Regions from separate parts of the Homo sapiens genome. Here regions 1 and 2 are each linked to region 3. The links come from fine-mapping of genetic effects on gene expression. A gene starts in region 3. Each other region holds a variant in brackets. All regions are shown on one strand. Distances are from middle to middle.

Region 1 (2,766 bases), 230 kb after region 3:
ATGGCTGGAGCGAGAGGAGTGCCTTTCCCCATGGCTCTAGAACAAGCCTAAAGCCTGGTTAAGTCTTTCCCCCGAAGAGTTTATTTTCTTTTATCATTTTTATTATGAAGAAAGCTCTGGACGTATTTCATAAGAATCACTCTTCCCCTCCTGCAAGAACTATGATGGCATCTTTCTCTGATCTTCACAATGAGAAACTGGTGGGATTCCTAGAGGTAATGTTCACAAAACCAAGAGGCTTTCCCCAAGACTGTTCCCAGAAGTGAGCCTACCAGTTTAGAGATCCAACACTTCTGCTCCAGGTAAGTTGATCTCAGCTTTGTCTCTGGATTTGCTGGAGACAGTTTGCAAACTCTGGAGACAGTTTGCCCTGTAATGAGTCCAAGTCATTGGTTTTCAGTTTGTCCAGCTTTTTCTTATAAAAGCAAAGAGTGACAACTTCCAAGCTTTTTATATGATGAAACTCATACAGGAAGTCCAACGTCTCCATGTGGCCTTCCATTATATAAATAACCTAACCCGAGCATCGGCAGAGGGAAAATTCCTCCAAAGACTTTTTGTTTCTGAAATAATTTAGAAAGAGCAGTTGAAAAACATAGCAAGAAAAACTTTCTGAGCAAATTACATGGTCAATTGCTTTTTAGTAACATTTTTTTCTCATTATAAAAGCAACACGTGCTGATGGTAAACAGTTGAAAATACGATAAGGTGTATTGAAGGAAATGTAATTTGCCTGCAATCTTACTAAGAGATAACCAGTTAACATTTTGCCGTATTTTATTTTTCATGACTGTGTATAGCTAGAAACACATACCTTTAAAATTGGAATCATTACTAGTGTTCTTTTATTAGCCTGTTGTCCTTTTCTTACCTGACTGTAATATTTAACCATTTTCCCATGTCAGTTAAATATTCTTTAGAAATATGTTTGGAGCATCTGCATAAAAATGTGTTATAAGGGAGTGTCATTATTTAACTGTTACCTGTTTGACAATAATACCACAATGACCATCCTTGTGCATAAATTCTTGTGTACAGCTCTTAAATTTTTCTTAAAGCTACTGGATACAATTGCTAGGTAAAGAGTTATCAATATTAAGGCGATATTAATATTCTAAGGCTTTTGATATATGCCAACTGTGTTTTGGGTGGTAAAGGTCTTCTTGAGAGAGGTGCCCTAAGAGGTGTGGTTTTTGTTTGTTTGTTTGAGACAGAGTCTCGCTCTGTCAGCCCAGGCTGGAGTGCAGTGGCACGATCTTGGCTCACCACAAGCTCCGCCTCCTGGGTTCACATCATTCTCCTGCCTCAGCCTCCTGAGTAGCTGGGACTACAGGCGCCTGCCACCA[C/T]GCCCGGCTAATTTTTTTTTTTTTTTTTGTATTTTTAGTAGAGACAGGGTTTCACTGTGTTAGCCAGGATGGTCTCAATCTCCTGACCTGGTGATCCGCCCACCTCAGCCTCCCAAAGTGCTGGGATTACAGGCGCAAGCCACCATGGACGGCCTCCTAAGAGGTGTTTTAAGAGCCCAGCATCACATAGGACTCATATTCTTCTCACCTGCATTTGACACCAGTGGGATGCTTCCTCTGACCACACCTTTTGTTGAGCACAGCATATTTTGTGACATTTGTATCATATTATGAGAAATAGTACAGAGGAAAGAATGCGAGCTTTATAATCAGCAACCTGGGTGCTGTGGTCAGAATGTTTGTATCCCCCTGAAAACTCATATGTTGAAATCCTTACTTCCAAGGTGATGAGGGTGGGAGGTGATTAGGTCATTGGGGTGGAGCCCTCATGAATGGGATCAGTGTCATTCTAAAAGAGGCCTTAGGGAAACCCCCCCCACCCCTCCCACCATGTGAGAACAGAACAAGAAAGCGCCATGTGTGAGGATGTGAGCCCTCACCAGACACTGAACCTGTAAGTGCCTTGACCTTGGACTTCCCAGCCTCCAGAACTGTGAGACATAAATTTCTGTTGTTTTTTTTTATAAAAGTCATCCAGTCTATGGTATTTTCTTATATAGTAGCCTGAAAAGACTAAGATACTGGGGTGAGTCTTTAAGTATCTACAACTTAAGTAACTTAATTTTCTTGAGTTGCTTCAATCTTCTCATTTGTAAAATGAGGATAATAGCTTTCTTTCCAGAGGTAGTTGTGAAAATTAAGTCATTCATTCAACTTTCATTGAATAAATGTTATTGAGTGCCTACATATAACAGGCACTATGCTGGGTGCTGAGGATACAATGATAAACAAAAGCAGAGAAGACTATTTTGTTTTGAGCTTTCTGTCCACCAGAGGAGACATCCATCAAATAAGCCTGCAAGTAAGTGTAAAAGTGGAATGGTGACCTGGAGCACTAAGAGCACCTGCAAGGCAGGTCTGACCTCAGGGAGTTAGAGAAGGGTAGGCAGGTCTGTGGAGGTGATGATGGGGTGGGGAGGTGTGAAGGATGAGGAGGTGACTGGATATTGGGCTAAGACACTGAGTCTTCTAGTCAGAGGGAACAACATGCAGAAAGGACTCTAAGAACCACAGGAAGAAGAGGAAGTATGGAAAGGCAATAAAAACAGATTTGCAATTTAAAGCCAGAATCTTGACTGCAACAGGTGGGGATGGTGGGGTGGGAGGAGGTGGGGAACGACCACAGGCTGGTCAGTTTAGAAGCTATTATAAATCCAGGTGGTAATGGTCAGAATGGAAATAAATGAATTTAATAAGTAATCTCAGTAGGAATTCATGAAGTTAGTGAGACAAATTTCTG
Region 2 (2,766 bases), 150 kb after region 3:
AGTGGAGATCATGCCACTGCACTCCAGCCTGGGCGACAGAGAGAAACTCTGTCTCAAAAAAGAAAAAAGAAAAAAGACTATATATGAGATATTCAAATAAGATTATGCTGTAAGTCATTAATCTGTTAAGATTTATAAGATGTTGAAGATATGGTATACTTGACGAATATATCTACAATGGAGACAATTTTTTAAAATCTTTTGGTTTATGGCTGAAAACAAATATAACTATTTCTAATACAAGGAAATCCAGAATAAGGAAGTACAAATTTTAAAATATATGTAGCTTTTCTAGAATTAGACTAATCTAATTAGAGATCCCAACCCTTGTTTTGATAAATAAATAGGGTATATTTTTATTAGCTTATTAATTTTAATTGAAATGGGGTAATATATATTTTTTAGTTTTTTTTTTTTTTTTAAAGTAGAGATGAGGTCTTGCTATATTTTCCAAGCTGTTCTCAAATTTCTGAGCTCAAGTGATCTTCCCACCTTGGCCTCCCAAAGTGCTGAGATTACAGGATAACTAAAAATATTTAAGAACATAAGAGAGGAAATTAAAATTACCCAGAGGAAACATCAGGATGCCATTACTATGTATTTACTTTCTTGTTTCCATGAGGGGCCTGGTCATGTTTCCAACATTTCTTGAAATATATGTCCTTCTTCCCTTGCATTAGTTCATGAAGATTCAGTCTGAGATCACAATGAGTAAATATTTAATCACCAAAGTCATGGATTAATCTCTTAAAAATTTTTTTAATTGACACATAATAGTTGTAGACATTTATGGAGTACATAGTGCTATTTCTATACATACAGCATATAGTGATCAAATCAGGGTAATTGACATATCTGTCACCCCAAACACTTACTATTTCTCTGTATTGGGAACATACAACAGCCTCCTTCTAACTATTTGAAACTATATATTACTGTTAACTGTAGTTATCCTGCAGTGCTATATAGAACACTAGAACTTATTCCTCCTATCTATGTGTGATTTTTTTATCTTTTAACCAATATCTCTCTCTCTCCTCACTTTCCCCTTACCTTTCCCAGTCTAGTAACCACTATTCTACTTTCTGCTTCTTTGAGGTCATCTTTTTTAGCTTCTACATGTAAGTGAGAACACG[T/C]AGTATTTCTCTTTCTGTTCCTGGCTTATTTCACTTAACATAAGGCTCTCTAGCCTCACTCATGTTGCCATGAATGACAGGAATTCATTCTTTTTTGAGGTCGAATAGTATTCGTGTGAGTGTGTGTGTGTGTGTGTGTGTGTGTGTGTGTGTGTGTGTGATATTTTCTGTATCCATTCATCTGTAGATGGGTGCCTAGGTTAATTCCATATCTTGGCTATTCTGAACAGTGCTGTAATAAACATGAGGGAGCAGGTATCTTTTCAATACAATGATTTCCTTTCTTTTGGAGATGTATATATCCAGTAGTGAGATTGCTGGATCATACGATAGTTCAATTTGTAGTTTTTTGAGGAAACTCATATTGTTCTCCATAATGGCTACACTAGTTTACATTCCCACCAGTAGTGCCTGAGTTCCCTTTGCTCTACATCCTTTCCAGCATTTTTTTTTTTTTGCCTTTTTGATAATAGCCATTCTAACTGGAGTGAGATGATATCTCATTGTGGTTGTGATTTGCATTTCCCTGATGACTAGTGATGTTGACCTTTTTTTTGTTTGTTTTTGAGACAGAGTCTCACTCTGTCACCCAGGCTGGAGTGCAGTGGCACGATCTCGGCTTACTGCAACCTCTGCCTCCCGGGTTCAAGTGAATCTCTCGCCTCAGCCTCCCAAGTAGGTGGGATTACAGGCACCTACCACCCCGGCTGGCTATGGGATTTCACCATGTTGGCCAGACTCATCTCGAACTCCTGACCTCAGGTGATCTGCCCGCCTCGGCCTCCCAAAGTGCTGGGATTACAAGTGTGAGTCACTGCGCCTGGCAGATGTTGACCATTTTTTCATGTACCTGTTGGCCATTCGTATGTCTTCGTTTGAGAGCTGTTTATTCAGATAATTGTTCTACTTTTAAAATGGATTATTATTTTTATTTAGCTGTTGTTTGAGTTTCTTGTGTATTTCGGATAGTAATCCTTTGTTGGATATATAATTTGCAACTATTTTCTCCCACCCTGTGGGATGTTCTTTTACTCTGTTGTTGGTTGCTTTTGTCATATAGAAGCTTTTTAGTTTGATAGAATCCCATTTGTCTATTTTTCCTTTTGTTGCCTATGTTTTTGAGGTTTTATTAGTAAAATCTTTTCCCTGACCAGAGTCCTGGAGTGTTTTCCTTATGTTTTCTTCTAGTAATCTTATAGTTGTGGGTCTCACATTTTAAGTCTTTAGTTCATCTAGAGTTGATTTATGTATATCACGAGAGGTAGGGATCTAGTTTTGTTCTTCTGCATATGGATATCCAGTTTTTCTGGCACCATCGTTGAAGTAACTGTTTTTTCCCCATAAATATTCATGCTATCTTTTTCTTAAATCAGTTGGCTGTAAATGTATGGATTTATTTCTGGGTTCTCTGTTCTATTGGTCTGTGTGTGTTTTTATGCTGGTACCATGCTATTTTGGTTACTGTATTTGTAGTATATATACTGTATTTGTTATACAGACACACACTTTTTTGGGGGGGTGGGGGTGGGGAGACAGAGTCTAGCTCTGTGGCCCAGGCTGGAGTGTAGTGGCAGAATCTTGGCTCACTGCAACCTCTGCTTCCCAGGCTCAAGCAGTTCTCCTGACTCAG
Region 3 (2,766 bases):
ACCATAAGTGTAATCTGCACCGTGTGTATTTCACTTCCTAACACCCAATCATCCATAACCATAAGAGAACATCAATAACTCAGAAAGCAGTAATACTCCAAGCAATTTATATGTGGTACTAGCATACACCAAATAATTTATATGTAGTACTATATGTTTTTCTGGGGAACAAACTTTCTAATGTGTAGTTTAGACATAAATAGATGGAGTACATAAAAACTAAGTGATCAAAAAGGTGATTAGAAATAGAAGAATAATTATCTTGAACAAATACAAAGGTCCAGCTATAAAGTAGATAATCCACAAAAAGACACAGAATTGGGAACCAGGAGAAACTCAGACCCACAAAATGAAGCTTATCATGCAGAAGACAGCCCAAGAATCCTAGACAATTATTTGATTCATTCAACAAATATTTACAGAGCATCTAATTTACGGCAGGCAGACTTTCTGCGCTTATGTATTCATAGGAATAAAATTAATAAACCAACAACTCTCTCCCTTTCCTCTTCCACACCCACCTTATCGATAATGCTGTTAATAATGAGAGGATTTTTCAAAATGTGCTGCCCAATCCCCGTGTTGAACATGAGTCCTGTAAGAAAATACGAAACAGCATTAATTTTCCTACTGAGATTAGATATTAGGCAGTACCAGAGAAGAAAGCTGCATGGGTATGGGGAAGATTTCTGCGCCAACCAGGGCCACGAAACGTCACGCCAGGACTGACAAACTCTTTATAAGTTCATCCTCCAGCTGGAAAGGAAGTCAGCGGCGACGCGCAGGGCCTGCGGCCGAGTCGGGGACCCACCCCTGCCTTCCGCGCTCACGGGAGCGCGTCCTGACCGGCCTCTGCCGATCAGGTCTTGGTCCGCACCCCAGGCTAGGTCCTGCCGGAAGACCTGACCCGACCGACCCCAGCTTCCTCGCGGGGATCCGCACCTCCAGCGCTCTTCAGCTCCCGGCGCTGCTCCTGCCGCCCGCGGCGGCGGCCGATGGCCCCCGACTTGACCTTCGGCATCTCGGCAGAAAGCGGGCCCACAGGCCCGGGACGTCAAGGAGGACCAAAGAGGGCTAGCGTGAGAAAGCCACCACGTGGGGATCGCCGCCACGCGCCGCCCGCACCACTCTGGCCCAAGCGCCGGAGGGGCAAGGGTCCGCCCCCTCCCGTACGCTCTGAGCTCCTCCTCCAGAAAAAGGGCGGACCTTGGAGCCCACTGACTGCCGGGAATTGGAGTCACAGAGGGAGGAAGGCCGAACCGCGGGAGCCTACAGATCCCAGAAGACACCGCGCTACCGAGGACTGCAGTCTGGAGTTGGAGCCCTTGTCCCAACCAGGGCTGGATAAGAAGGTGTTGGTGTGGTGCTCTCGGTGTTGCGAAGGCTGTTTAAGTTATATGATGAGGTTAAGCCTATGGATGTTTTAGTAGCCTAGGTTCTGGGATCGCTGAGGTCCAAAGAAGTATTCACGTGCCTCGCTCCTGTTTTCCTGAAGCTTGTGGGGGTGGGAAACCCGGGATTTGGGGATGAGCTTGCTCTTTTGTGGGAATGCATTTTTTGCTGCTTGCCCTGGGGAAAAGAACTGCGAGAATGGAATTAACGTCTGGTTTCGCTAGGGCTACTGGTTGCTTCTACTAAGAATAGAAGAGCCGGGCGCGGAGGCTCACGCCTGTAATCCCAGCACTCTGGGAGGCAGAGGCGGGCGGATCACAAGGTCAGGAGATCGAGACCATCCTGGCTAACACGGGGAAACCCCGTCTCTACTAAAAATACAAAAAATTAGCCGGGCGTGGTGGTGGGCGCCTGTAGTCTCAGCTACTTGGGAGACTGAGGCAGGAGAGTGGCGTGAACCCAGGAGGCGGAGGTTGCAGTGAGCCGAGATCGCGCTACTGCACTCCAGCCTGGGCGGCAGAGCGAGACTCCGTCTCAAAAAAAAAAAAAAAAAAAAAGGAATAGAAGAATAATTATCTTAAACAGATACAAAGCTCCAGCTACAAAGTAGATAATCCACAAAAAGACAGAATTGAGAACCAGGAGAAACTCAGACCCACAGAATGAAGCTTATCGTGCAGAAGACAGCCCGTGAATCCTAGAAAATTATTTGATTCATTTAACAAATAATTCAACAAATTCCTTTTGTGCCTCATCATTCACTCCGTAAACATTTATTGAGCTCCAACTGTGTATCAAACACTGCTAGGGATTCTAAGTAAGAAACTTATTTCAAAGTGTATTATATTGACAGAGATGGACAGAAACTCCAAAACGCTGTAAATACGATAACGTATTGGTCGTTGTGACAGGACAGTGTACCTGACTATAAACTCCGTGTGTACCAGGGCCATAATATCCACATCTGTTTTGCCAGCCAGTGTAATGGCTCTTTTAAATTTTTCTGTGTGTATTCTGTTTGGTTGAAGAAATAGCTTCTTCCTGTCATTACTAAAGCTAACTCTCTTTTGAGCAATTCATTGTGTACATTCCCAAACCTTGGTCTTAGGCCCTTCTTTCTTTGATGTAGTTCTAAGTCAGAAAAAAAATCTCGTATACCCTAGTAGCATCTTCAAGTATATGTTTCATTTCATCAATCATTGTTATTCCACAATTCTAAAGAGTACACTGTGCTAGGCACTTCCAAATGTTAATAGGATGGACATGGCCTGGAGAGGTGGCTCATGCCTGTAATCCCAGCACTTTGAGAGGCCAAGGCGAGCGGATCACTTGAGCTGAGAAGTTTGAGATCAACCTGGGCAACAAAGTGAGACC

Evidence for each region. PIP is the estimated chance that this variant, and not a neighbour inherited with it, causes the effect. A credible set is the group of variants that fine-mapping cannot tell apart.
Region 1: its variant is the best candidate, but not a certain one, in a credible set for the expression of DIMT1 in whole blood (TOPMed, PIP 0.58).
Region 2: its variant is the best candidate, but not a certain one, in a credible set for the expression of DIMT1 in whole blood (TOPMed, PIP 0.50).

Annotation. Positions count from the first base shown.
Region 1 is chr5:62,636,859-62,639,624 of GRCh38, forward strand. No RefSeq gene overlaps it. Among named protein-coding and RNA genes, the nearest start is that of LRRC70, 59 kb to the left of the region's middle. The variant C/T (reference allele first, on the strand shown) is at 1,347.
Region 2 is chr5:62,552,069-62,554,834 of GRCh38, forward strand. The region is part of intron 26 of IPO11 (importin 11); the gene reads left to right. Among named protein-coding and RNA genes, the nearest start is that of IPO11-LRRC70, 25 kb to the right of the region's middle. The variant T/C (reference allele first, on the strand shown) is at 1,137.
Region 3 is chr5:62,402,752-62,405,517 of GRCh38, forward strand. It overlaps DIMT1 (DIM1 rRNA methyltransferase and ribosome maturation factor), which reads right to left and starts at 1,154. Exons shown (of 12, transcript NM_014473.4): 1 at 943-1,154; 2 at 522-595. The coding sequence starts at 1,021. RefSeq lists an enhancer at 1,075-1,364.